Linked DNA regions of Homo sapiens: region 1 is linked to region 2. The links come from fine-mapping of genetic effects on plasma protein levels. Region 2 holds a variant in brackets. A gene starts in the other region. All regions are shown on their forward strands. Region 1 holds the start of BOC (BOC cell adhesion associated, oncogene regulated). Region 2 holds the start of RAPGEF3 (Rap guanine nucleotide exchange factor 3).

The links. PIP is the posterior inclusion probability: the model's chance that the variant is causal. The UK Biobank Pharma Proteomics Project read protein levels with antibody pairs (Olink). The fine-mapping took linkage between variants from a reference panel, not from the people measured, so its PIPs are less certain.
Region 1: BOC starts here. The variant in region 2 is fine-mapped to the plasma level of the BOC protein (UK Biobank, PIP 0.98).

Annotation. Positions count from the first base shown.
Region 1 is chr3:113,198,131-113,211,997 of GRCh38, forward strand. BOC (BOC cell adhesion associated, oncogene regulated) reads left to right here and starts at 13,427. Exons shown (of 20, transcript NM_001378074.1): 1 at 13,427-13,867. It overlaps LOC124909486, which reads right to left. Exons shown (of 2, transcript XM_047449436.1): 2 at 9,267-13,867. The coding sequence ends at 13,425. RefSeq lists an enhancer at 13,788-13,867.
Region 2 is chr12:47,743,753-47,758,966 of GRCh38, forward strand. RAPGEF3 (Rap guanine nucleotide exchange factor 3) reads right to left here and starts at 15,128. Exons shown (of 28, transcript NM_001098531.4): 1 at 14,799-15,128; 2 at 14,114-14,326; 3 at 8,164-8,217; 4 at 7,971-8,077; 5 at 7,647-7,768; 6 at 7,296-7,464; 7 at 6,589-6,673; 8 at 6,178-6,238; 9 at 5,989-6,065; 10 at 5,638-5,784; 11 at 5,067-5,179; 12 at 4,702-4,790; 13 at 4,322-4,400; 14 at 3,960-4,110; 3 more. The coding sequence starts at 14,804. It also overlaps a transcript of SLC48A1 not described here. RefSeq lists enhancers at 8,708-9,249, 9,734-10,028, 11,856-12,025, 12,056-12,125, 14,339-15,007 and 1 more and a silencer at 14,948-15,214. The variant A/G (reference allele first, on the strand shown) is at 5,780.

The DNA of each region.
Region 1 (13,867 bases), not on the chromosome of region 2:
GTCTGTATTTTTTGTATATATATTTTTAAAACCATGAATTCATACCGATATCTCTGACTCCAATATGACACCAGAATTCATTCTAGCCTTTTCCCTTTCCCTATTTGTAACTTTTTTCTCGGATAGTGAGAAATTTGGCTTTCATTATTGATGATGTATTTAATTATTAGTTCAACTGTAGTATACACACAAAGTAGTTTCAGAATTGCTAATCAATACTCCTGTGAGACATAAGTTTACTAACTAGAGTATAGTAGTTGTTTAGCCTCACAGTATCCAGTCAAAATACTGTTTTCCGAAGTAACTTAGTTTTTTTTCTTCTCCGCTCCCTAAATTACAGTTATGTTAATAATTTGTAATACAGTTGGATTTAATTGTTACAGTTTGAATTCCATTTTGAGTCCCCTCCCCCTATTCTGATTGTTATTAAAAATTTACATACAGTAAAATTTTCTCTTGGAGGAGTATAGTTCTATGGGTTTTGACAAATGTATGTTATACAATTTTAAGTTGTTTTTCTATGTCCATAAAACTGGAACTTTTTCTTGTAGATCTTTAGCCACTTCCACTTATTTTTCAAAGTGCCTGTGGTAATCTTTTGAACTGGTTATTTGTGAGGAAGCAAAGTTCTGCGTCTCTGCGTTTCACATGAACAGGAGGAGCTGAGCTATGTCTGTATAAAGCCACCACTCAAATTTGGTCAAATCATTACTTTCTATCACCTAAGCAACTGTGTCTGCATAATCAATTACATTGGCTGTGCCGCCAATCTATATCGACTCTTAAGACATCAACTAACTGGTGAGGGAGGATGTGTGAAATCTCAAGGGCTAGGAAAAAAAGAAGTGTTACAGGTGGCAGCTGGTCGGTTCTTCCTCCCTTTCTCTCTCTTTTCTGCAGCAAACATCTACCTATTGCCTACCATATTCCAGAAGTTTTTCAAGGCATTAGAATTACAATGATTATTAAGACCCAGGCCCTCCCCATGGGTTTCACAGCAGGTCAGGAAAATTGAAGATACACCACATGGAAACAGCATCCCCCCAACTGAGAAACGTGATAGCCTGAAATAATTATAGATCAGTGCAGAGAGTGCTTTGATAAGGGTAAACACCAAGTGATAGGGGTCCTCGGGTAATAGTCATCCCTCATGCTGGGAAGGTCCAGTGGGCAAAGAAGTCAGAGGAACTAACTAGCTAAGTAAGAGCCCCACATACACAAAGGCCTACAGACTAAATATCCTGGAACATTCCTAAGAAGTTCTGTACAGTGAGGAAAGGAATGGAGTCAGGTAGGGAAATGGTTGGAGACCACACTGGGGCAGTACTTACCAGAGATCAGTATGAAAGGGTTAGTGTACTTTGCTAAGGAGTTTGATTTCATTCTAAAAGTGGTCAATGATATCAATGAATAATTTTAGGGGTAAGTATATGACATGATCAAAGTTGCCATTTCTAAAGATGTCTCCATTAGGAATGTGCAAATGGACCAGTGAGGGAGGCAGAGGGGAGGCAGGGAGATTAATCAAGAGGCTTTTGTAATATTCCATGTAAGAAATGATGAAGGTCTGGACTAGGACAATTGCAGAAGAGACTGAGCTCAGGTAATGGATTCTGGAGAGATCTAGGATGTGGCACTATAGGAGGTAGTGATGACAATTACCTGTGAAGAATGAAGAGAAAGAAGGTGTCAAGAATGATTCCCAAGTTTCTCTCTCAGACAGCTAGATAATCCTGTTGTTACTCAGGCTGTTTAAGACTATTTTGTTTTTAAACATCAGACATGGTGAGATAAGCACATTGTTTTTCTTCTAAATAAGTAGGGCTTTGCTAATATTACACAAATTCATTGAGGAGGGGTCAAATATAAGAAAGTTTCACTGTTCATTCCCATCATTCCTAGGCCACACTGGAGAAGAAAGGAGAGGATCCCAGTCCCAAGGAGTGTAGAGGATTACAATTTCAGATAGCTTTGAGTTTGGTGTGTCCAGCAGGGTCATGAGTTGTGCAGCCAATGCAGTTGCACAGAGCCTTGCACTCAGAAGGGTCCTGCACTCAATTTTAATTTCTGGGGATACCATTGTGAAATTTTTAATGAACTTATCTTTGAATTTATATTTTGAAAGTGAAATTCTATGAGATAATAGAGCATTCACTGGGGGTTTGGAGCCTCAGCTCATGTGTGGTCCTGCCTGCCCCTGCCTGCCCCTGCCTCTCTCCTCCCTGGGACAGGTTCTCAACCTCTCACTCCCTTGCCCCCTGGTGCCCTAGCCTCCTCTGATCTCTCCCTTCCCACCCCCACTCCATGACCTCAGTCACCCTCTGCCACTTGGCAGGGTCCTGGGTGTAACCATGAGGAGGTTCAGGATAAGGCATGTACCCCATTCTCCTCAAAAAAAGGGCAAGGCAGTGGTTGCTCCCACCCTAAGCTGTCAGCTCTCAGGCATGTTCAGCCAGTGACTTGGCAGGGACCTCTAGTCCACCCCTTAGCATGTCTCAGTCTGGAGGTTACAATCCCTTGGGGGTCACCTCTCCTCTGTGGGTTATGAGAAATGGAGATTGACTTCTCTACTCCTTCTGGGACCCTGCATTTTTATTTTACACCCTGTGAATCATGTAAGCAACTCTTGGTGTTGGCTGATGACAAAAAAAAGGGTGGATGGAATTATTCTAACTCATATGTATCTTTCAGGAAATGAGATCCTTTCTTGTCCCATCAAAAGAGGAATAAGACATTCTACAGTGAGGTCAAAGAGGGTGTAAAGCAGAGACCAGGTCAGGGATGAATTCTATTGCTATAAGCTTTCTGGGAGAGACTCAAGTCCTTCTTTTATGGGGTCAAGTGAGCATGATCCAGATTCTTATCGACTGTGGCCATTCTGGGGATGGTCTGCACCTATACAATAAGTTACAAATCATTTTTTTATTGCAGTAAAAAATGTATCATTAAATTTGTCAACTTAACCATTTTTAAGTGTATGGTTCAGTGTGTTAAATATATTCACATTATTATGCAATAGATCTCTAGAACATTTTTATCTTGCAACACTGAAACCCTAATCCCCCTAAAAACTACTTCTCCCTATACCCTATCCCCAGTCCTTGATAACCACCTTTCTACTTTCTGTCTCTTTGATTCTGACTACTTTAGATGCTTCATATGAGTGGGACCATATAGTATTTGTCCTTTTGTGACTGGTTCATTTTGTCAGCATAATGTCCTTCCGATTAACCCATGTTGTAGCATGTGAAAGGATTTCCTTCTTTTTTAAGGCTGCATAATATTCCATTTTTGCATGGTTATATCACATCTTCTTTATCCACTCATCTGTCTATGGACATCTGGGTTGCTTCTACCTCTTGGTTATTGTGAATAGTGCTGCAGTTAGTGCTACAGTGAACATGGGAGTACAGCTATCTAGTCAAGATCCTGATTTTAATTCTTTTTCAAGATCCTGATTTCAATTCTTTTGGATATATACCCAGAAATGGGATTGCTGGATCATACAGTAGTTCTATTTTTAATATTTTGAGGAACCTCCATACTGTTTTCCTTAATGGCTGCACCACTTTGAATTCCCATCAACAGTGTGCAAGGGTTCCAATTTCTCTACATCCTCATCAACACTTAATTTGGGTTCTTTTTTTTTTTTTTTTGAGAGTTGCCAACTTGTAATATTGCATTGTGGCTTTGATTTGCATTTCCCTAATTATTAGTGATGTTGATCATCTTTTCATATGCTTATTGACTGTTTACATATCTTCTTTGGGTAAATGCCTACTCAAATCTTTTGTCCACTTTTAAATCAGGTTATTTGGTTTTTTGTTGTTGAGTTAAAGTTTCTTAGATATTCTGGATATTAATCCCTTATCAGATATATGACTTGCAATTATTTTCTACCAATCTGTAGGCTGCTTTTCATTCTGTCAATTGTTTCCTTTGTTGTGCAGAAGTTTTTAAATTTGATGTAGTCCCCTTTACCTATTTTTAAATTTTATTCCCTATCTTCTCAATGTCATAATCAAGAAATTGTTGCTAAATCTAATGTCCTGTAGCTTTTCTTCTATGTTTTCTTCTAGGAGCTTAATAGTTTTAGGTCTTAGTTTCAGGTCTTTAATAACTTTGAGTTAATTTTTTGTAATGGTGTAAGGTAAGTGTCCAACTTCATTCTTTTACATGTGGACATCCAATTTTCCCATCACCATTTGATGAAGAGACTGTCCTTTCCCCATAGTGTAGTCTTGGCACCCTTGTTGAAAATCATTCAGCCACATATAAGATGGTTTGTTTTTAGGCTATCTATTCTACTGCATTGGTCTATATATGTATCTTTATGATAATACAGCATCGCCTTAACTGCTATTGCTTTGTAATGTGTTTTGAAGGCCGGGAATGTGAGCCTTCTGACTTTGTTCTTTTTCAAGATTCTTTTGGCTAGTCAGGGTTTCTCGAGATTCCATATGACTTTTAAGATGGTTCTATTTCTGTAAAAAAAAAAATGCCATTGGGATTTTGAAAGAGGTTGTATTGAATCCATAGACTGCTTTAGGTCCACAAATTAGTTTGAAAACATAAAACCACTCACAAATAGGTGTGCATGTAAAACTGGCAAAATATGAATATGGCTGATGAGTTTATCAATGTCATTTGTTTAAGATATTGTACTATAGTTAGGTTAGCTATTGTGCTATTGTCGGGGGAACTGGATGAAAGGCATAGAGACTCTCTCTGTATTGTTTCTTACAACTCGTGACTCTATAATTATCTCAAATAAAAACTAAAAAACAAAGTCAGTCATACGCTATCATTTCAAACATACCATTAGCATCTAAATGCAAAATACTGTGTACAGACAGCTTTATAGCTAAGACAAACCAGGCTTCACCTGCTTTAGGCAAGGGCCCGGTATTTAGTTGTAAACCTGTGGTTCCACCCCAGGCCCCGTATTAGTTATTGGTATTCCTTCAACATTACAGACCATGTAGATCCATTAGGCTTTAATATATATCCGTGCTACAATAGGGATACTTGATTTTGTTAATTCTTCATCCACTTGATATATTTATATATTGGGCATCCACCATGTGCCAGGCATCATGCCAAACCTGAGAATACAAAGATGAAACAGATTGCCTTTGTAGTTGAGGATATTCCAGCAAGAAGACAGACAGATCCACAATTATAATTACAATGCTCATGGTAGATGCCAGGCAAAGGCAAAAAAGGGTTTCATTAGAGGGCAATCCGAGTTAGGAAGGGAAGGTTTGAGTAAGTCTTCCTAGAAGAGATGATGTTAGAGAAAATTCTTAAAGGGTAAGTAGGAGTTTAATGAGTGGAAAAGAGGAGAAAGGAAATAAGTCAGAAGGAAATAAAGTGGGCAGGCTGGAAAGCATGATAAATTGTGGTGCTTTGAGGAAGGGCAAGGAGATACTGGAGCACAAGATACAGTTTAGTGGGGCCCTGAGGAGCCAGCCTGGGGAGTTGAGCTGGACCAGACCATGGAGCAGGGAGCACTTGTGCCTTATATCAAAGGAAGTGGGGAGCCATCAAAGAAAGGCAAGGACATGAATGATCCCATCTTCATCTCTCCTGAATAAACAAGGACAAGGCCTATAGATATTGCTTTTTAAATAATTAGGAATCAGTGAACTGTGAGATTAACTTTCTTAGTCGTTCCTTATCTCAGGCACAGTTTCACATGCAAGGTATTGGGACCACCAAGCCTCTAACAATTCCATTTTCTAGTTGATGAATTCAACAAATAAAAGGCAAAGAATATACAGCTGTTTTCTGATTCTCAATGAGAGAGGTGGCAGGGAGGCTTCTACAACACCACCAGCCCCAGAATCTATATTCTTGTCAATTCCTCTCCCTTCCTCATGGCTCTGCCTGCAGGTCCACAGAGAGCTTCCAACCACTGTCCAGGGAGGCCGGTCAACCTTCCCTCCATGACCAGAACTGCAGAGCAGCTTGGGCCTCCCTGTTAAATTCTGCTTGTGAGTGGAGGACTTGAAGAAGTGGGGTAAGGTGGAGTAGGGTCAGGCATAGTTAGGTTTCCTGATGCTGTGGCCAAAAGTCTCAGAGAATCGCAGGTATCTTATGAAGGAGAAAGAAAATAACACATGTAGAACAAAACAAGATGGCATAATACCTGCCTCAAAGCTTGCAGTGGCAGCTTTGGCATTAGATTCTGCCCAGCTCAGTCCCCAGAATATGGATTCCCCTCCATGGAAGCATCTCATTGCTAAAAACCCTTACAAGATGTGTGAGAAACTTCTTCCCCCTTAAATGGCTGACTGAACAAATTTAACGGAGGCTGTTATCCACTGAGTTTAGTATCAAAGCTCTGAGATCCAGTTCTCTTTGAGTTTTTGCTTTCATCTGGAATCTTGCGCCCCTGCCCTCTTTGCTGCCGTCACTGCACAATGTCAAACAGCTGGAGTCTGGGCAGCACCAGAATCCAACTGTCTCAGCCTAACAAGTGAAGGGATGGGGGAAGAACAGATGGCGGGAGATGAGGAAGGTGGGGGTGTCATGGAGGACGAAAGGGGGCTGTGCTTGCTTTAGAGAATCTGATATCTTGGAAAAGTGGTCTCACGTGGAATTCAGTGTCAATAGATTCTATTTGTCTAGGGCTTTGCAAAATCAAGCACACAGAAGTGGCCTTGGACTATTCTATTTTTCATTTCTCTAACCCAGCTTCACCTCTCACTCAAACTTTTACTAATTTTCCCTCCATTTATTGAGTGCCTACCAAGGGTTTATATATACATATATACACATATATATATGTGTATGTGTATATATATGTGTATACATATATATGTGTATATATAGAGAGAGAAATAGTACATATATATTATTTCCAATATTCACAGAAACTAGGGTTTAGGGATGTAATTAATTTGTCTAAGCTCATGCAGCTTATTTAAGACTGGATTCAAACCCAGGTTTGTCTTGATGCCACAATATTCTTTTTTTAAAAATCTCATCCTCGGCCAAGCACAATGGCTCACGCCTGTAGTCCTAGCACTTTCGGAGGACGAGGCAGGTGGACCAGTTGAGCCCAGGAGTTCGAGACCAGCCAGGCCAACTTGGAGAAACACTGTCTCTACTAAAAATACAAAAAATTAGCCGGCCTGGTAGCAGGCACCTGTAGTCCCAGCTACTCCAGAGGCTGAGGCAGGAGAATGGCGTGAACCGGGAGGCGGAGCTTGCAGTGAGCCGAGATCACACAACTGCACTCCAGCCTGGGTGACAGAGCAAGACACTGTCAAAAAAAAAAAAAAAATCAACTGGGCATGGTGGTGTGCGCCTGTAATCCCAGCTACTCAGGTGGCTGAGGCAGAGGTTGCAGTGAGCCAAGATCACACCACTGCACTCCAGCCTGGAAGACAGAGTGAGACCCTGTCTCTAAATAAATAAATAAAATATCATTCTCCCCCTGGGGTACACTTGTCCATAGGGAGCCTTGTGGGGATCTGGTGATTAATTCCTAAAAGTCAACGGAACATATAGCCAGTAGGAATGCCTGAGTTGACAGCCTGGGGCTAGAGAAGTCAGTCCCAGCCAGTTCAACTTGTATAAGGAATAGATGGCATCATACCAGGCTCACCTGTAGTTCTGCCTGAACCATGCAATTTAGGGTTTAATTATACGCTGTCTTGCATTGTTTCTACTAATTGTTGCATAGGTCAATCTTATACTTTCATTCATCATTCTTCCTTCAGTCAACAAATATTTTAGAGCAACTGGGCATATTTCTTCTCCAGCAGCCCTTGCAATACCCAGCATAGAACGGTAAGCCAACTCAGATAACTAGTTAATGGTCCAGTCAAGAGCAAATGAGGGCTAATTTTCCTAATTATAAATTAATGGATTATGTTATGCATCTTGAAATTGTACTGAGATATTGCCTTAATAAATAGACACTTTATACACTCAACAGCTTGAATTTTAAAGCAGAAAGTTGGGTTCATGAATATCTCATTTCCAGTATCATTTATCAAGATAAAATGTCTTTATCCAAATATAAGCTTTTGAGAATAGTTATGTGTACAAAAGCCAATTTACTAATATTGTTAAAACTGTGAATTTTGGTATCTCGTTTATTTGTTTTTTTTTTGTTTTTGAGATGGAGTCTCGCTCTATTGCCCAGGCTGGAGTGCAGTGGCACGATCTCAACCCACTGCAACCTCCCGCCTCCCGGGTTCAAGCGACTCTTCTGCCTCAGCCTCCTGAGTAGCAGGGATTATAGGCATGCGCCACCACGCCTGGCTAATTTTTGCATTTTTAGTAGAGATGGGGTTTCACCATGTTGGTCAGGCTGGTCTCAAAACTCCTGACCTCGTGATCCGCCCCCCTCAGCCTCCCAAAGTGCTGGGGTTACAGGCGTGAGTCACCGCACCTGGCCGGTATGTCATTTTTAATCTTAACCCATACATCAGAACTCCATTCTCTTCCTGTATATAATATCCTTAGACTCTTACATTAGTTACAATTAGTAAGTTACCTTAGTTCTTGGAATGCACTTGAATGTCTCTTTCGAAAAAAGAAAAACACTCCTTGGAAAGCCCATAAAATACTTCTTAATGGCTAGACAAAATTTGGGCATTTTCTAAACAGTTTTTTTTTACTGCAAGAAGTAGCCTGCAATTCATGAAATAGTTGTGAAGTAGTGTGTTTCACTGGAAAAATCTTGGGTTTGGAATTCTTACCACCATTTAGTTGTTGGGGATCTCAGGCATGTTATTTAATTTTCCTTATCTATAAAATGGAGATAATTGCACCTATATAGCACAAGGTCATTATGGGGATTCAAGATGGAAGGTACACACAGAATCCAGGAGAGAAACTGGGAGAGGAAGGTGCTCAATAAACATTAGCTTATTTCTCAGAGGCTTGTTGAAAAGGTTAAATAAAATCATAAATATGATGCAGTTCATAGGGTAAGCAATTAGTGCCCAGCTCTTCCCATTGGAGTGTTGTTTCCACTAAAGTGAATATTTGGCAGTTGTTTTCTTTATTGTTCAGTGTAATCATTCAGACTAGATAATTCAATCAAGTCTTCACTTGGGACCTTGTGTTTGATGATCTCATTGTTGTTTTTAATTAAAATAATCTGAGAGATGGAAATGTACATTGGAACCACTGGAGGACAATTTTGTAATACCAACTAAAAGCATTTAAAATGTTATATCCTATCCATTGATCCCAAACTCCTACTTACATGAATTTACCCTTAGGAAATAATCAGAACAAAAAGATTTATAGCTAGATGTTTAGTCAACTGCAATACAGGATGATAATAAAAATGGAAACGATCTAAATATGTAACAATAGAAGAATGGTTGAATAAATAACAATCTCTCTCTTTGATGGGATAGTACACAGCAGTTAAGTCAAATTTTGAAGATTACATATGGGGAAAATAATCATTAAAATGTTAAATTTAAAAGCATGATAACCTGTATGTACAATGAACCCAAATTTGTAAAATATGAAAGTACCAGATAAATCAATGAAGAAGCTGGCTCCTGCCTGAATTACCAGATGCATTAAAAATTGTATAAAATATTGAATAAACTCACCCCAATTATGTTTCCCTTTAAATGTCTTTCAATTCTGATTCAATTAGAATCATATACTCAGTGTCGATAACGTGTTTATTTGTATTGATGAGAAACAAAAACAAGAAAGAAAAATGACTAGAAAAAACACTCCACTATGTTAATAACAATGTTATCCCTGGGTAGTAACTTTAAGTTGATTTTCTTCTTTTATGTGTTTTTCTACATTTTCTAAATTTTTGTCAGTGCACATATTTTATAATCAGGAAAGCAGATTTATATTAAAACAGAGGAAAACATCATCAAGTCCTTCTTTCTTGTCTACATCTTAATAATTTTCTCAGCATAATCCTCTCCAGATATCTTTCACAGTCAAAGAGATCCCTGTTTATATGATACAGGTAGAGTATCTACAGCACACTGAGAGGAAACCACGTCTTTTCATGTCATTCACTGAATTCCTTCCAGTTTATTCTGCACAGCCTAGCAACATAGTGACTTATATAGACCTACAATCCCTACTCACCTCCCCACTCCTTCCCCCGACCAAGCATTTAAATTAATGTGATGATCACTTCCATACCAAATGCTTCCTTCTTGGTGGAGGCCCATAACATTTCCAAGAAAGCAAGGTGCTAGAGGTAAATCACCATCAACAGAACGGACAGTAGCAAAAAGCACCTTACAAGATCCAGACTCCACCTAACTGTTTTGAAATGGCTAGAGATGCTGGAATGGGTTGGGGTGGGTTAAGATAGAGAAACTAATTGAAAGGGGAGGAGGGAATTAGGCAAGAAATACCCTCCAGGCAAAATGGAGTGGGGAGAAAATTCAGATACGTTGTTCTTACAGGACTAGTAGTAATAAACACAATCACATTAATACAAAGAGCAATAAAAACAATAAACATATCTGAGGTACCAACAGTGTGCTTGATGCCGCCAGCAGAATTAAGTCCTCTTTATTAAGCTGTGATCTGCATTCTGCCTAAACTATAAGAAAGGTGAGCAGCAGGCCGGGAGCAGTGGCTCATGCCTGTAACCCCAGCACTTTGGGAGGCTGAGGCGGGCTGATCACCTGAGGTCAGGAGTTCGAGACCAGCCTGTCCAACATGGTGAAACCCCGTCTCTACTTAAAAAAAAAAAATTAGCCTGGCGTGGTGGCAGGCACCTGTAATCCCAGCTACACGGGAGGCTGAGGCAGGGAGAATCGCTTGAATCGGGGAGGTGGAGGTTGCAGTGAGCTGAGATCATGCCACCGCACTCCAGCCTGGGTGAGAGAGCCAGACTCCATCTTAAAAAAAAAAGGAAAGAAAGAAAGGTGAGCAGCCTGCATGCATGAAGGAACAAGGCAGTGTGTCATTCTCCTGACTAAATGGTGCTGGTAGGGACTGTTACATTCTTTGTGTTCTGTTGTGTTCTGATGCTTAACTCAGAGCCTAGGGCTGTGTGGACCCAAAGACCAGAGTAAGAGAATGGAGAGTCCTAGGAGAAAGATGACAGAAGGGGTAGAAGATATCTTTGAGATGTCAAGCAACGAATAGTATATACAGGAATATAAAAGAATGAATCTGAGACCTTCATGCATCACGTTCTCATTGAGCGGTACTTGGAATCATCTTTGAAAAACAGAAGGCTGGATACGCTGCTTGGGTCCCTGGGGAGAAGGAGTGTTATCACTGCAGAGGAAGCTGGTTGACCCATTCCCTTGGGGGAATTAAAAGTTCTGTACCCAGGGTGGACCCCAGGCCTTGTAGTCCAGAATTGTGCCTTGGAAGGAGGACAAAAGAAAGTGGAAGCTAATATAGTCAATGACTGGAAAGAAAAATAGGTCTTTGAGAATGTTGGGGGAGATTGTTAGAGATTAAAAGGGAAGGAAAATTAGGATGATTAAGTAGGAAAAGGAAATGTAGGTGGATAATGCACAGAGAGAGTTCAGAGTCCTTTTCACCTTCTTGCTGAAAATGCATCATCCTCCAGATCCATTTTGCCAGAGGAACATGCCTAAGAATCCAGGCACAGAGCTGAAAGTACTCGATAAATCAAAAAGGAAATTGGCTTCTGCCTGAATGACTAAATACCGGAGAAAAAATAGTGCAAAATATGGAATAAAATACATTTATGTTTCCTTTGTAAAGGTCTTTTGGTTCAGATTCAATTAGAGTCCTATACTCAGTGTAAAGTATGTATGTTTACTGACAAGAAACAAGTTAATAAAAAACAAAACAGGGCCGGGTGAGGTGGCTCACGCCTGTAATTTTAGCACTTTGGGAGGCCAAGGTGGGCAGATCACTTGAGGCTAGGTGTTCAAGACCAGCCTGGACAACATGGTGAAACTCCGTCTCTACTAAAAATACAAAAATTAGCCGCGCATGGTGGCAGGTGCTTGTAATCCCAGCTGCTTGGGAGGCTGACACTGGAGAATCTCTCGAATTCAGGAGGCAGACTTTGCAGTGAGCCGAGATTGCACCACTACACTCTAGCCTGGGCGACAGAGTGAGACTCTGTCAAAAAACAAACAAACAAACAAACACACACACACACACACACACACACACACACACACACACACACACACACAAAACCCCCAGAGGCCCAGAAAAGTTAAGTGACTTTCCAAAGTCACAGTGGCTTCCTGACTCCCAGTGCAGCTGTCCAGCCACACAGGGAAGGCAGCACCCCCATTCACCCTACTACTAGCCTGGCTGTCTTATTTCCAGGACAGCTTCCTCACCAGCTTGGCACAAACTCCCAGTTCACTTTAAACAAATGGCTTAGCCCTGCTGGGACTTGGTTTTCTCAGCTGCAATGAAGATACGGAATGGATGACCGCTCACAACCTGTGCTTCATTCCTAAAAAATAAGAAGGGAATCCAATTTGCCACCAACTCAACATTTGCCTTCTCACTGCCCTGGAAAGGTAGTTTTTAAAACGTGGCCCCTGACCTGCAGCATCAGCATCACCTGGGAACCTATTTGAAATGCAAATTCCCAGGTCCACCTACTGAATCAGAAACTCTGGAGGTGGGGCCCAGCAAAGGGATTTAGCAAGCCTTCCAGGGAGTCCTGCTGCAGATCAAGTTTGAGAACCACAGCTCTGAAAGTTTTCTGACCAACACACACGCGCGCGTGCGCGTACACATACACACGCATAGGTAACTAACTTTTCCGTGGCCACTAGCACCCCCAACCCATGCCCCCAACCCCAGCCCCAGCTCTCCCTCCCCATTCCTCCCTGGCTCCATCCTGGGATGATGAATGGAGGTCAGGGCGCTGTCAATGGACGACGCGGCAAACCCTCCCCAACCGACCGAGGGGGTCGGGGGAGGCTGCGTTAAGGCTTCCCTGAGATTGGTTTCCTTATCATTTTCTCCACCGCCGCTGTCCCATTTTCTGATGAGTTTGCTTTTAATGATTTATCCAACAGTTTGTCTTGCAGAAGAAGAAGACCATTGAGAGGTGGGTGTCAGGAAAGTCTTGGAAGAGACTAGGCGAAAGGAGGGAAGGATTGTACATGGAAGAGCAAGGGTGCGAGGTGAAGCTAAAGAGAAAGTGAAGGCTTCAGGGGAGCCCCCTGGGTTCGGGGAAAAGGGAGAAGATGGTGCTTTTGGTATGGGAAAGCAAAAGAAGTTGGAGGAGAGCGCGGGTCTGAGGCACAGCAAAAAGTGGGTGTTAACGGGAAAACTGCCCTAGAGTTTGGGGGACTTTTTCCAGCTTCCTTTCCAAGACTTTTTCTTTGCTCCATTTTGCTCCTCCCCCTCCTCCCAGCCTCCTCCACTCCCTCCTCCTCCTCCTCCTCGCACGGTAATGGGAGGCTCCTAGGCAGGAGAAGCAAAAGAAGGAATTGTTTGCGAGTTCAGTCATCCAAAAAGCTTCTTCCATATGGAGGGACCGGGTGCGCTGGGCGCGGCGTCCCCTGCGTTGTCCTCCTGCTGCCGCCCCCGCGGCCGCCGCTTTCTGCCGCGGGGACCCTGAGCCCCGGCCCGCCGGTGTCAGCCGCCGCGCGCGCGCACAGACACACACACAGAGACACACAAACACACACAGAAAAGACACACACGCGCACACACGGCGCGCACACCCTCACGCCCGCCACAGCCACAACACGCCCGCACGCGCCCTCCCTCTCCGGCCCGCAACTTCTCGGTCCTCGGCTCCTTTGTTGCTCCAGCCGCGGCCGCTCGCCCGTGTTGTGTGTCCCCGGTGTCACCGAGCGTGTTGTGTGTCCGTGCGGCGCGGCGCTGTGTGGCTCCCTCGCGCCCACCACGCTGGCCCCCGGGCCCCGGCTCGCCCTTCCCA
Region 2 (15,214 bases):
GTAATGGTGGGAGGGATCCCCAAGAGGCTGAGCTGCAGGTGGGGAGGCCCTGAGCAAAAAAGAGGCAGGTAGGAGGCAGATCTAGCCAGCAGCCTGGAACACAGACCCTGAGGAGTACAGCGTGCCACCTTGGCCCAGGCACACCGAGGTCAAGAGTGACGACAGCAGGACAAGAGAGGCAGAGACAGCAGGGTGCAGATGTCGGGCTGTGCCCAGCCGGCACAGACCACCAACCTTTATCCCCAACTTGGATGGCACAGCTGCTGCCAGGAAGGGGCTCGTCCTGGTTGGGGAGCCAAACAGGCAAGTTCCGGGCCTGGGAGGAAGAGGAACGAGAAAATAAGGCTGGGAGGACATGAGAGGAGACCGTGGAGGGAGGGATTGTGAGGTCCCTGTGTCACCAGGAGCACGGGCGCCACACAGCATTCACACCACCAGAGGGCTCTGCTTGCCACATTCACCTGAGCTCAGGTAAGGCACCTGGGACCAAGGATCCAGGAGAAGACACAACATGTCTAAGGGCGGGGCAAATCCATGCCCCTCCGTGTGTGTGTGCTTCTGCATCTGCCAGATAGGTCCAGAGCAGTTCTAATATGAAAATCCTTCAGCTGCTGACTTTGGTTTTCTCTTCCTTTTCCTCCAGCTACCATTTGCTACAAGCCAGGCATTATTCTGAGGATCTAAATATTCACAATGCGCCTTTGACAAAAGTATTATTTTTATTTCCATTTTATGGATGAAATAAATGAGGCTCAGAGAGGTTAAGTAACATGCCCAAAGCCACACAGCTGCTAACTGGCAGAGTTGGAATCCCTCCTGCTCCTTTCCCCCTCTGTGCTCCGATACTGTGTCAGTGGCCCTGTCCCAGCCCACAGCAGGGATGCAGTTCATGGAAACCACTGTCAGGCCTCTGCTGGCAGGGCAGCGCCTGCCAGGCAAGTCTCCTGACTCAGGTTCCCCTTCCCACCCTGCTTTTTTCCGACTCTGGTACTGACTCTGTCCCTCCTCCCAGCTCTGCGTATAGCAGATCCTCCAGGTTCGGACCTCAATCCATTGCTCTTCCCTACATTTCCAAATCTCAGGGACCCCTGCAGAGTTCCTTACTGCCTCATGTGTCGCCTGCACATGGGTGATTCCCAAAACTACCAGCAGTGCTGAACTCTCTTCCAAACCCTGGTCTCAAAAACCCCCTGCATCCTTCCACATGAATGATCCATTACCTCACACTCCATATACCCATCGGATCCTTGCATCCTGCCTCCCAGACCACTCTGTTCCCCAGCCATTCTCCCCAGCTCCAGGCTCCTCCACACTTCCGTAGCTTGTCATCTTGCTTTGAAGATTCTTCTTTGAAGTGGGTCTTCTGTGCCCCCTCCTCCCCTGCCCAGGCTAACTCCAGTTCCACCTGCCCACGAGGCCTCACTCCTTATCTACTCCAATGGCCCAACTATGCTCCTCCTCCTCCCTCCCAGGTGCCTCCAGCCCTCCTCCTCCAATCTGCCTGACCAGAGCCCTGTGAAGCTCCCGCACTCGACTTCAGTGGCGTCCATTGTCTGCTGGAGAAAGCCCAGGCTCTTTAGCTGACCTATTCAAAACACAAATCAGACTTTGCCAACCTTGGCTCAAACCCCTTTAATGGTTTGCACTGCTCTTAGGACAAAGATCAGACCCCTGTCCTTGGCCCAGGGGGCCCTGCCCACCTCCTGCCTGCTCTGGGGTCCTACTCTTACTCTCGCTCCTCCAGGGATCCTCCTCCTGGGTTCCCTTTCCTCCTGGGTTTGCCCACCAGGAATCCTCTTCTTCCTCCACCCTTGCCCCCTGCAGCTCTCAACTCCAGTAGTCGCTTACACGGGACACTTTCCCTGAATCTGCACTGGAGTTGGCTCTTCCCCTCCCGTTTTCAGGAGCGGACTACAGTTGGAAGAGCCGACTCCAGTGCACATTCAGGGAAAGTGTCCCGTGTCACTGCACATCACGGGTTGTTGAACTGCTCTGCCCCTTGCCTGACTGCAGCCCCACAGGCCAGGGTTGAATGAGGTGCAGCATCAGCACCTAGCGCAGTGCCCGGCCTGCGAGGGTGAGCCCACATCAGTTTCTGAGCGTCAGCCAAGAGCCAGGCAGCATGTGAGCAAGGAGAAGCGGAGGTGGGGGCCCGCAGGAGGGAAGTCAACTCTCCAGTGGGATGGGAGAGATACCAAAGGACAGAAAGCAAGTAGGCAAAGAAAACAACTCCACATGGCGAGAGTGCTTTGAAGAAAATCACAGAGGACACCAAGGCAGAGCGTGGTGGGAGAAAGGGGAGGGTGCTCCGGATAGGGAGACGGGAGGGGGCCTGTCTGGGAACCCAGCATTTGGCTGAGATGAGAACGAGAAGGATCCTGCCAGGCAGAGCCAGAGAAAGACCCTTCCAGGCTAAGGGATAAGTGCAAAGGCCCTGAGGGGAGAACGGGCTTCGCCTGCGGAGGAGAAGAAGCCAGTAAGAGTCTCCAGCAGGCAGGGGCTGGGACACACAGTAGGGTGGGACCATGGGGAGCCTGCTGGATGGTGAGGCCCCTGGATTTTATTCCCAGTGCAGCCCTCCCCACCACCAACCTAATCTACCTTTCCAGTTCTTTCTCCCACCATTCCTCAACCAAATCCTGGCTGCAGTCACATCTTCTCATCCCCTCTTTGCTTCCCTTTAAGCCCCAGCTGAGAATGGCCTGGGGCCCCCTCTGACTTTCCAGGGAGGGGCCTCGCCTTCCTCTGAGCTCCCACAGCACTGGCCACCAGGAGCCCCGTGGGCCTCAGGGGCCAACTCCAGCCACCATTCCTCATCTCCCAGGCTCTACCTGTGGGCATGAATTACCTCCCAAAAGGAATAAAAGGCCCATTGAGTCAGGGAGTGGGCGAGGAGGGAGGCCACCTTAGGCCTCTGCGCCTCCTGGCACGGCCTGGCCCAGGGCACCACATGCAGCAAGGGCCCCGTGAACACCTATCAGAGACCCAAGGGTGTGTCTGTGGGAGGAGAGCTTCCCACGCCCACAGAGCCCCTCAGGGTCAGGGGGCGAAGGAGGGGCCTGCAGTCCAGGAGGAGCAGAGGAAAGAAACTGGGGCCAGGCAGACACCTTCATCTGAGGAGATGCATTCCCACAGCCATTCTCCAACCTGCAGACAAGAGAGAAGGGAGGTGAGTGAGCCCAGGTATCCCTGGGGCTGCAGCAGGGAGGCCCTTGGGGCTCTGGATTCTCCCCGGCCCTCACCAGTGGTTCAGAGGTAAGCACGACCAGGTAAGTATCACATAAAGAGGGGAGAACACGGTCTTGAAACCAGGCCCCCAGACTTTGTGATTTTCCAAGGCCAGGAGGGGAAGGAAAAAGTTAAAGGCAGATGCAGACCCAGGGTTTCAGATCAAGTGCTGTTTCAGATGAGCTCCCAACCCCCCTGAATCTCAGCTGCTCCCGTGGGAATATCTGCAAAGGTGAAGGTAAAGTCTAGGAAATGTACCGGGCGGGACTGGCAGAAGCTGGCACTGAGGGTATTTGGTAATAAATGCATGCCCAATGGAGGAAGTGAGAACAGCAGGTGCACTCAGGATATGAGAATGAATAAATGAATGAGTGCCTGATGCATGAGAATGGAGGGACATGTGGTGTGAGGGTGAACAGCAAGGGGACTGATAAGAACAAGGAATTGAAGTAAGTGGTGCAGCCTGGATCTGAAGCCAAGTGCTTGACTCCAGAGCGTATGCTCTTGGTCCCCATGGCACTGCCAGTTATGGAAATGACAAATTAACAGAGTCAAAGCATCACCTGTGGCATCGCCGCCTCTCTGGCCACTGCTCCCTCAGCAGGTTGCTGAGTCGGGTGTCCCTGCCCACCAGGTCTGAGAGTTTCTAAGAAGAGCCAAGATTCACTGAGATGGCTGTAGCTGCATCCACCCCGGGCAGCCCAGCCCCGCTGTGCCTCACTCCCAGGTACCTGGAGGAAGCTGGTGGCCACAGGGTCAGTGTGGAGCATGGAGCCATACAGGGCCACCCACTGGCTGACCAGCCGCAAGATCTGCTGCCTCTTGTTGCAGACGTAGGTGCTGCGCTCCTGCTCGCTGCCACCCGCAGGCTCCACATGGAAGGTGGGCACCAGTCAAGGGAACCACAACATCCAAGCAGGGCCACCCACCTGAGGCAAAGGAGGGGCAGGATGCCCAGGGCCCCTGGCAAGCTGGGCCTGGCAGCAGGCTGGCATTTAAAGGGCTCAGCACAGCCACGCTGGTGAGATTTTCTCTCAACCCCACGCACCATCCTATCCCCATGCACACCATCCCCCTGGAGCTGGAAGGATATTGGTGCAGAAGGGCAGCGCAGAGTTGGGCGCTGGGCATGAAGACCCTGTGGGTCAGGAGGAAGTCGCTGAGGAATGTCTCTGTATGACAGGGTGAGGGGATGGGAGGAGGCTTCAGAGGCCAAGTCTGCTGAGCACAGGTGTATGGACAGCTGGAAGGACCCTTCCCCACATCCCACCACCTGCAAGGTCCCAGCAGTGTCCAGCCCCTGTGATAGTGCTCCCCACTAAGCCAAGAGCACAGGTAAGAGGACTTATTGCCAACTTCTGTACAGACCAATCCAGCATTCGGTGACGTCAGATGCAGGGTACCTGGCTCTCTCCCAGGCTCCATGGACCACCCAATGAGTCAGAAAGCAGGCAGGGTGTCTCTTGCCCTTACCTGTTGGGTCATGAGCACTGGAATCTGGTCCCATGGCCTCCAACAGAAGCTCTAGGATCTTCTCTGGGGTGCCAGACATCACTGTATACCTAGCAGAAATGGCCAATCTTTGGCACTGGTGCCACTACTCCCCACTCCCACACCTGGGCAGACATCAATAATCAATTACATCATTTTTCTCCATTAGCCAGCCCTGTCCCACCTTAGGGCAGGGAGGAGACTGGCTCAGCAGGCACATCCTGGTCCCTCAATACCTCTCCATCCACAAGTGGCCAGAGGGCAGGGATATGACACAGGGGAAGGGAGCAAAGATTGGGAAATGAAAGGAGGGACAGTGTGGAGAGGGAGCATGGCAGGTGTATTACCGGTTCCTGCCTGGGGTTGGGGGTCGGGAAGGGCCGGCGCCCTGAGAGGCTCTCTCCAGCACCAGCACCACTTTGCCATGTTCTTCCAGCCGCATGGTCTTTGCCTCCACATCCTGGAGAACAGGCCACATCCCATGCTCAACTCATGATGTTCCAGCTTTAGACCCTCTCATCTACCTCCTTCATTCCAGCCCCTGAGCCCCATGAGGGTCCCACAGGGACCCACAGCCCTTCTCCCACCTCCGACTTTGGCTCCACCTCCTCAGCCTTCCCTACCTTCCATGCATCCTGCCTCCCCCACAGCCTAGTCCCCCGCCCCCTGCATGCCCATCCTTCCCCTGGTCTCCCACACTGAGCCTGAAGTCACTGGTCTCACTGAACTCCTTCTGTGCCTTATGGGCTTCACCTTCTCACACACACCCAGGGCTATGGTCCCACTGCCAGCTGTCATAGCCCAGCATCTCTTACCTGCCCTGCTTCTTACAGGCCCTCTGCTCTGGTCCCTACTCCTCTCTCCACATCACTTCTCTGGACGAATGGCCCCTGCCCTCCCCAACCCCAGCAGCAGCACCTTGATGATACGGTTGAAGTCCTGCTTGTCCACACGCAGGAAATGACAGTTGTCTTCTCGCAGGATGATGGTGGCTGCCCGGGGTGCATCATTCACCAGAGCCAGCTGTCCAAAATCATCTCCCTCATGCAGGGTGGTCACC[A/G]GCCCCTGCAGCCAGGCCTCAGTCTCAGCCCGCCCCTGCCGCCCCTGCCGCCCCCAGCTCTTGCCAGGACAGACCCACGGCAGGAGAACAACCCACACAGGAGACACGGGGTCAGCAGCAGTAGATCAACAAAGGCACTGCCCATGAGGACATGGACCAGGGAGCAGTTAGGACCCAGGGCACTGGGGTGGGGAGGAGGGAGGGCTCACCTTGCCATGGGTCACCACGTTGACAGATCCCTTCCAGATAATGTACCACGAAGTGCCCTTGTCCCCCTGGCTGAACACTGACAGAAGCATACCTCAGACCGGGCCCTCCTGGCACCTACCATTCCTTCACACATCCTTCTGCCCATGTCCAGGCCCTGTGCCTGGCTTCTTATGCCCTGCTGGACTTACACACGGTCCCTGCCTTGCTGTGTGGTTCAAAGAGCAGAACAGCCGCTAATTCTCGCTTCACCTGTGTGGTGGAGATAGGAGAGTCGGTGGCGACAAGTTCATGTGCAGAGCAGCCAGGCTTTTGCTAGGGGTGTGGTTAGGTCCAAAGACACAAGTGCTGGGGGACAAAGATGTGGCCAGGTCAGGTGTTCCCAGGATTCAGCAGGAGACAAAGCAAGTGGAGAAAATGGGCTGAGAGAGGCGGAAGGATTTTCAGACAGGGCAGCGCCGGGGGCAAGAAATCAGACTGAAAATTTCCAGCCATAGATGGAAGTGGAGAAATGCCCTCTGGCCCAGCAGTTGGAGTTTCAGGGAAGTCACAGGAAGAGAAGATGCCTGGTACGGGGCAGGGCTGGGAGGGGCAGGACTGACCGAGTTGGAGAGGTGGGCCACAGCCTTGATGTGCAGCAGCTCCTCAAAGATGAGGTCCAGCTCTTCATCCGTGCGCTGACCTGGGCTGCAGGGACAGGAGGAATGGGAGCACACTGTGAACTGTGGGCCCGTCAGGTGCAGGGAGCCACTCCACCCACCCAGCCGATGCCTGTGCCAGACGGTGCCTCAGCAGTGACAGTTATCAGCAGCAGCTAACCTTTACTGAGTGCGCACATGTGGCAGCGCTTGTGATGAGCATTTTGCATGCATTGTTTCACAACAACCCTAAGGAGTGGTTCTATCATCCTCACTTGACAGAACAGGAACTAGCATGAGGAGGCTCAAGGTCACCCAGCCAGTAGCCAGTCCAGCTGGAATTTGAACCTGGACCCACCGGACTGCAGTTTCCAAAACCCACTTGCTTTCAGCCACAACTGTGTCTCTGAGTGGGAAGGGTCCTCAGAGATCCCCCTGGTCCAACATCCTCATCTACAGAGGAAGAAACTGACTTGGGGGGGTTTGGGAGTGTGGAGGGATCCAGGTCACACAGTGAGTCCGTGGCAGTCAGCGCCAGGGGCTTCTGGGCCAGCCAGGTTCCCTTCCCTCCACAACAGGTAAGGGATGCCCCCAGAGATCAATCTGAGAAACCGTGAAATCTGAGTGCTGTGTGAGGCCTGGGGTCACGGGGTGCAGGGATTCTGACTCACGGCTTTCGAAGTGCCACAGTGAGCAGGGCGTCAGGCCCCCGCTGGGAGAGCAGGGCCACAGCTTCGGCCAACTCCTCCTCCATCTCATGAGTTCTCACGGGCTCGGGCTCGGGCCCGGGGAACCGGTAGAATTGGGCATCTCGGTCCTGGAAGGCCCAGTCGTGTTTCACTGGGGGGCAGAGGCCCAGGCGTGGGGGAGGAGAGGAAATTGAGGCTATGTGGGTATGAAACCCCACTGCGATGCCACCCCTCAGCACTCCCCAAGTAGTGCCTGCTTCCCAGGACTGCCCTGTCCTGTCCCCCTCACTGCCCAGCCCAGCCCGGGGCACCCCACCCTGGGCTCGGGCTCACCATGGCAGAGGGCACCTTCATCCAGCAGCACCTGGCAGATTCCCACAACTTGGCTCCGGGAATGGACCCCAAGTCCCAGGGCCAAGATCCCATCCACCAGCTCCCGGCCAGAGCAGCACTGCCTATGGAAGGTAGAAGGGGACAGGCCAGTGGAAGGAGGGTGGCAGGGAGAGGGAGGAACTATGCATTAGAAAGGCACCCTCTGAGGCCCAAGCCTGGTTCGTCCCTGTGCTAGAAGCAGGGTGAGGCCCAGGTGCCTGACATAAAGTGGAACGGAGAGAAAGCAGTGAGGCTGGGCAAGGAGGCAGCAGGGCCTCCACTCACCGATAGAGCCTAAGGTGGTACTTCCGGTCTCGGATGAGGTTTGGGCAGGTGGCCAGCAGATGCCGATGCAGCTGCCTCCCAGCCCTGAGCACCCGCTCTGTGGAGGCCTTAGAGGGAGGAAGGGCACAGCAGTTCAGGCTCTGAACCCCTCATGGTGCTGCCTGTCCCAGCTCCACCCTGCCCAGGCTTCTACCTGCTCCAGGCTCTCGCTGAAATCCAGGGACTCCTCGCTGTTGGTGAGTGGTGTCTGGGGGCAGCAGGGAAAGCGTGCACATCAGTGTGAGGTCTTCAAGCCCAGCTCTTGGATACCTCCCCTCCCCCATCACTCCCACTCTTGCCTAGGCCCCAACCCCAAATGCATCCATGTGGCCACTCCTTCAGCAAATAAACAAATATTCACTCAGCACCCTGTGCCCCGGGCATCGCCTCTTCCCACCCTGCCATCCTGATCACCAAACCCAACTCAAGGACTGCCTCCCTACAGTTGAGAGCCCTAAGACACCCATTCTGCTTACTCAGGGCCCAGGTGTGCCCATGCCCCCAGGTGAACTGCCCCTGTTGGGGGAAAGAAGTGAGGGAGCTGGAAGGAGCATGAGGACATGAGATAAGAAGACCTGGGAGATGGGAGCCAGGATGTGAGCAGCTCAGGAGGCCTGGGAACATCCGCTCCTGGGCTGGGGTCACAGACCTGATCCCCAGCCAGGTTCTGTGTCCTTCCACAGGCCCATGAGCAGGTGTCTTGCCATCTCTGGGCCTCGGATCAGCCTGGTTGTCAAAACACAAACCCTGGAGCCAGGCTCCTGGATTAAAATCTCTGCTTCCCCACTGATGGCAGATGTGACCTGAAACAAATGATTTAACCTCTCCCTCCCTACCTGAGTCTCCTGAACTGTAAAATCTACAAAGCACTAATAATACCGACTCATGAGGTTTTGGGAGAATTAAATGAGTTGCTACACATCGAATGTTTAAAGCATTGCCTGGCATATAGTTGTATGCACATGTTAGCTAGTACTCATCTGTGAGGCATTAGGGTGGGGCTGCTTGCTGGAAAGCGTCTTTCTTCTCTGAGATGTTGCTAGCCTGTGCCCTGCGAGAGTGAATAAGTCCTTGGTGGCACACAGGACTGGCTCAGGAAGACGCACTTTATCATGGAAACACTGCTTAGTAAGGATTCCCTGCCCTTGGTAACAAGCCATTTGGAACTCCCGGGCCTGTACGCCCTGGAATAATGGCCATGAAAGCCCCTCACGACCCTTCTCTTCCTACCACCTGAGAATCTGGGGTTTGTGGACATCTCTGGACAGGATGCTCTACCATCTACGAGCCCTCTCAAAGGGCTCACTTTACAGTTTACAAAGCACTTTACAGTTTACAAAGCACAATCGCCCCCTTGATTTCATTGGATCTCATGTAAAATAGGATCAGATGTGAAATAGGCAGAGCAGGCATTGTCTGTCCTCTGTCACTTACAAGGAAATAAAAGCCTGGAGGTGAGGTACCTTGTGTAACTCAGTTGCGCATACTTCGGACAGCCAGACAGCTGTGGAGAAGTTCAAGTTCCCACCCAGAAGTGCTCCCATTCTCAGTCTCCCTACACCCACCCCACCTGCCCCTTTCCTCTCCCCTCACCAGCCACCTCTCTCCTAGCTTCCCATCTGGCTTCAGGTCCCTGAAAAGGACCTGCTGGGGAGTTGCAGTACAACCAGTCCTGGTGCTGGCAGGGCCCTGGGCACAGGCATCTTGGCACTGCGTGCCCAAGCAGAGGCCTGAGGTCTGGCATGTGCAGGCGCCTGGCCCAGGGCTGGGCGGAAGTCACTAGGTGTCCCAAGGGTATCCCTGCCCGGGTCATGGGGCCCAGCCCAGTGCCAGACACAGAGCCCTGGAGACTTAACGACAGGAAATGAGAAGGAGGAGGAGCCAGGGAAGGGAGGAAGGGCAGGAATGCTACCCAGCCAGCCCCCTGTGTCGGAACAAACAGTGCCTGAGTGCTAATGACTTGTTGTTCATATCAAAATGCCCAGGTGGCCCCAGTCCCTGCCCCAACTCCCATTGGAGCCCACAACCCAGGCTCCAGCACCAGCCCCCTTCCTGGTATTATTCTGACTTGGGAGAGGGCACATTAGGAGGGGTGGTGCTGGGTCACGTGGCCAGGTTGGTCATTTCCTGTCCTCCCCCAGGGGATGAGGATGCAGGTCAGAGAATGGCCCTAGTCCATGAGCACTGAGGAAGGGACTTTAAGGAATCCCTCTCATTTTGACAAGGAAAGCAAAAGCCCAGAGAGATCACACAACTATTTAGAAAGGTAAGATTCTACTGAATAACTCTGCTACTGGTGCTGACCCCAGAGGTAGGTATTTGTTTCCTATTTCACAGCTAGAGAAAAGAAAGCTCCAAGGTTCTATAACCTGCCCTAACTGTTGGTCAATAAGGGCACCAGGATTCATACCTATGTCTGATTCCAAAGGCCATGCTCTTAGCATTATGCCCTACCGTCTTCCATTATGCCTATTCCCATGTTTCCTCAGCTTTGTGCTATAGGCACAGACAGTAGAGGTATTCTGCCTTCAGGCAAGTTCTGTGGGCAAGTAAGTTTGGAAACCACTGGGTTAGACAAAGATAGACAGGTTTGTTATTCTACCCTCTCTGTGCCCCCAGGATGTTTGTGTGCCTGCCAACCTTCTAGGATGGGGCGGAGAGAGGGCTGCTATTCAAGGGCAGTGGTCAAGTGTGTAGGCTCTGCAGCCAGATGCTTGGGTTCAAATCCTAGCTTTTGCGTTACCATCTGGTTGTGTGAGCTCGTGCTGATTACTGAAGTTTGCAGTGCTTCGGTTTCCTCATCTGTAAACTGGGGTTGATGATATGAATAGTACCTATCACAAAGGGTTATGAGGATCAAAAAGTTAATAATATAAAGTACTTGGAATGGTGCCTGGATCATAGTAACTACTTAGTAAGTTTAGTTGACTTGATCAGATGTTATTATTTCATGATGGGCCCTATTACCAGGACACAGTGCAAAAAAATACAATGCTAGTCATGTCAGTTTCAGGGTTCTCAGTTGGGAAGAAGCAGCTGATATGAGTCAAGGTGAAGGTCCTCCTCACCCACTCCCCACTCTCATTCCTGAACAGAAAGGGTTCAGGGCGGAAGAGGAGGCACTAACTCCCCTGGCACCAGCACTGTGGCCTGCCCCACCCTCACTCCCTGTCACTGAATGTCAGAGCTGGGCTGGAGAGACAGGCACAGAGCCAGACAGCCTGGGGACCTGTCAGACCAGTTCCCTTGGGCCATAGCTAAGGTGTCAAGCTAGGGCTGCTTGTGGTGGGACAGGGGAAGGGTGCATGGGGCCGGGATGATGCCTTAAGGTGTCAGTGTTACTGTTCGTAGCAAGAGAGAAGTGCAGCATGGTGGTTATGTGGTTATGAGCTTGGACTCTGCAGCCAGATTGCCTGGGACCAAAGCCCAGCTTTGCCACTTAGCAGCTGCGTAACTCTGAATCTGTCACTTAACCTCTCTGTGGCTTTGTTTTCACATCTATAAAATGGAGATGATGACATTAGTACCTATCTCACAGGGCTGTTGTGAGAATTATTTGATATGATAAAGGCAAACCTCTTTCAATAATGTCTGGCACATAAGTACTGTATAACTATTAACTACTACTATTATTTGGATAGGTTGAATGAAAGTGCGTTCTCGGAGTTACAAAACAGGGCCACTTCCCCAAGAACAGTCACACAAAGAGAATCATCTCAGACTTCCCTGAGCTAGTAGAACCCACCACAGGTCACTCTGATCTTGCCCCTGCCCCCGGACATCAGACAAGATCTCACCTCCCCCTCTTATTTTCCAAAGATGTTCTTCCATCCCATTCCAGTGTCACTTTTGCAATAGCTGTTAAGTCTTATCTTAGTCTGTATCTAACTGCAAGCCCTCCTACTGTAACCCGCTTTCATTTTCTCTTGTCCTGGTCTAGGTAGGAACAGAAAGAGCTGTCTTCAGACTTCTTCTCTGGGAGGTTGATGGGTTTTCCCCTTGGCTTTCGAAGAGGGAGGTCTGGCCTCAATAACTGGCAGTGCTGTCTTCCTGGGACTCGGGCTCCACCCCTTCACCATGGGCGTGCATGCTCACAGCTGGCACTCATTCCCTCACGGAAGCCTTCCCTGGGCTAAAGGCATCATCAAGAGGTAAGAAGTACAGCTTCACAGGTACCCAGAGCCTCTCAAATATAGGCATGATGGAATGAAACCTCCCCACCCCAGTCCCCAAAGTTGGTCATCAGAAGAGGGAGTGGCCGCCTGCCTCTAAACACTAAAAATCTAAGTTCCCTCTAGTCACCAACGCCCACCTGGCACGGAAAGGCCTTGTTTTGGTGCCTTTGACCCCATTTACACTCCAGCAACCTTTACCCCCACCTTTCTGGCCTTCCCCTGCACACCAGCCCTTCATTTCTGGGGGCTGTGGAGAGTCAGGAGACAGCTTGGTGGCCTCCTCCACTCCCTCCCAGACTTCAGGTCCCAGGAGATCCTCCAGTGACCTATTGTCCTGGCACCTGACCTTCTCCCTACCCCCTACCTTGCTTCCACAAGCTGGGAAGGGGACAGGAAATGCACAAATAATTATAGCCCAAGAGGGAAGGAGGGAGGGAGGGTTCCAGCCCACTGGCTCCAGGCAATAGCTACAGCCAGTGACCCGGAGAGCGGAGAGCCGGAGAGCCAGAGGGGTAGCGGAGGAGGACCCAGGCTCATGATAAGGAAGACCCTAGTAGAGAACAGCTCTACCAGGACTGACATGTGGACTCTCCTCTCAATTCTGATTGCAAAGAGGAGCCCCTCATCTTGGTAGGTCTCAGTTTTTTCAACTCAGCCTCACTGTAAATGGCAGTTGGGCAAGGTAGGGGGAAGGAGGGAGAGGGTGGTGGTTATTCCACTCAAAAGGACTTGCCAATAAGAAGTGAACTCTCGGCTAGGCGCAATGGCTCATGCTTGTAATCCCAGTGCTTTGGGAGGGCGAGGTGGGCAGATCACGAGGTCAAGCGATCAAGACCATCCTGGCCAATATGGTGAAACCCCATCTCTACTAAAAATACAAAAATTAGCTGGGCGTGGTGGCGCACACCTGTAGCCCCAGCTACTCAGGAAGCTGAGGCAGGAGAATCACTTGAACCTGGGAGGCAGAGGCTGTAGTGAGCCAAGATTGCTTCACTGCACTCCAGCCTGGTGACAGAGGAAGACTCTGGTTAAAAAAAAAAAAAAGAAAGAAAAGAAAAAAGAAATGAACTCTCCCGGCCAAGCGCAGTGGGTCACGCCTGTAATACCAGCACTTTGGGAGGCCAAGGCAGGTGGATTGCTTGGGCCTAGGAGTTCAAGACCTACCTAGGCAACATAGCGAAACCTGGGTGGACACACGCAGTGGAGACATAACTGAATCTCAAGCTAAGCTACTCTATTTAGTCTGGATGGTTGGGGATAGCTTCTCTGCTGATTTGGATAGTACAGCCATTATCTTGCCTCCCAAATCCCACCATTCTTTCCCCTCCCTGCTCTCTCCTTCATTCTTTCAGGTCCAGAGATGTTTCTCACTAGCAAAGGGCACTTTGGTGATCTCAGATTCTCCAAATGTCTCAGAATCCTTCCCTGAGCCCCCCAAAGGCAGGTACCAAGCAGTGTCCACATGATCACCTCACCCTAAGACCAAAACGCAGAATTAGCACAGTTCAGTAACTCACTAAAGGAGAATGTTGCCACGGTGATGCACCCAGAACTGTAACCAAGCTTACCTCACTCCAACCCATTGACCCGGCCCCCATACCTCCCACCTCCACCTGGAAAGAACACACAAGTACCTAACTCAATGCCGGCTCACTGAGGTGACAGATAAACAACAAATCCCTTTCCCCTTCCCCCCATGCCCAAACAGAGACATTTGGGCAGAACACACACACAGACACACACACGTTGCAGCTGTGTGAGCCACCCACGCACACTGCAGACAAGCTTCCTGACCCAGTGTCCACGGCAGCTGTACCACTGTACACCCCCAGAGCAAGCTGGGCCACCAGCAGCATGCCAAGCCATGATCTAGGCCCCCCTCTAGCTCTGGTACTGGCCCTGGCACCTGGGCAGGTGAAAGGTACTCACCCAGCGCAGCCCCTGGATGCAGCTCGGACGCTGGTGCTCCAGCAGCAGCTGGTAGGAGCAGCTTCGGGGCCGGTGCATCCTTCTCAACACCATGTTGAGTAGTGTCCCCTCCGGCACCACGTCAGGGAGGGCTCCCACCCGCGGTGCTCCCAGAGCTGGGCTATCCTCCACAGCCAGGCCCACCTGCCAGCAGCTCTCACCTGGCCAGCCCACCTGTGACACGGGGAGGAAAGTGGACAGCCATGGGACACGACTGGGGCGGCTGGGCCACAGTACAACTGCCCCAGGCAGAACTACTTCCTTAGAGTCCTCTGGACTGGTCAGGCGGAGGTGCTGCAACCCTGCCAGGAGCTGGGGGGAGGAACAGGAAGACCTTCACTGGGGCCTGCCGGTCTGGCGCACTTAGGGGTCTCCAGCTGGCTCTTGGAAAAGATCAGGCCCTTCTTAGTCCTCTTTGGAATTCTGTCCCATCTCACTGCCCATGCCCCTGCAGGGATCTCCACTACCTCCCAGTATGAAGCTATAGATTCACTAGGTCTCCCAGAAATGCAGCTTCGGCTTAAACCCTTCTCCTCTCCTCCTCAGCCCTGACTAACCCTCCCTCTCCCACCCAAACTCCCCACCGTGTCAGCTTCCTCTCCCGCCCTCTCCTGCTCCTCCTCAACCCTGACCCCACCTTACCCACCTTCATGTTTCTTTTCAAGCTCGCACAGCCGTGCAGGCTCTAGCAAAAGGCTGGGGGGTCCCCAGCGACCCCCATCAGCTTTGATAAGGGGATCCGGAGGGTGCCAGTGGGTAAGTCCAGGTACAGTGAACTGGGCCAGTGCCTAGCTGGACTGGCTGCCAGGGCAGCAGGATGCAGGGCTCGGTGGAGAGGCTCCTCTTGGGTGAGTAGAGGGGTGGGGGCGTGGTGGGGGGACGCCACCCAGCCACCGGCGACAGGGAGCCCCGAGCCTGCGCCTTCGTCTCAGACGAAGGAGCCAGCTGGCACCGGGCGCTGAAGCAAGGCTGCGCTGGCACCGGTCCGGGCGGGAGCTGTCACACCCCCTGCGCTGCCCGCCCCCTTCCCCTCCCCAGGACTGGCGGAGGGGGCGGGGTGGA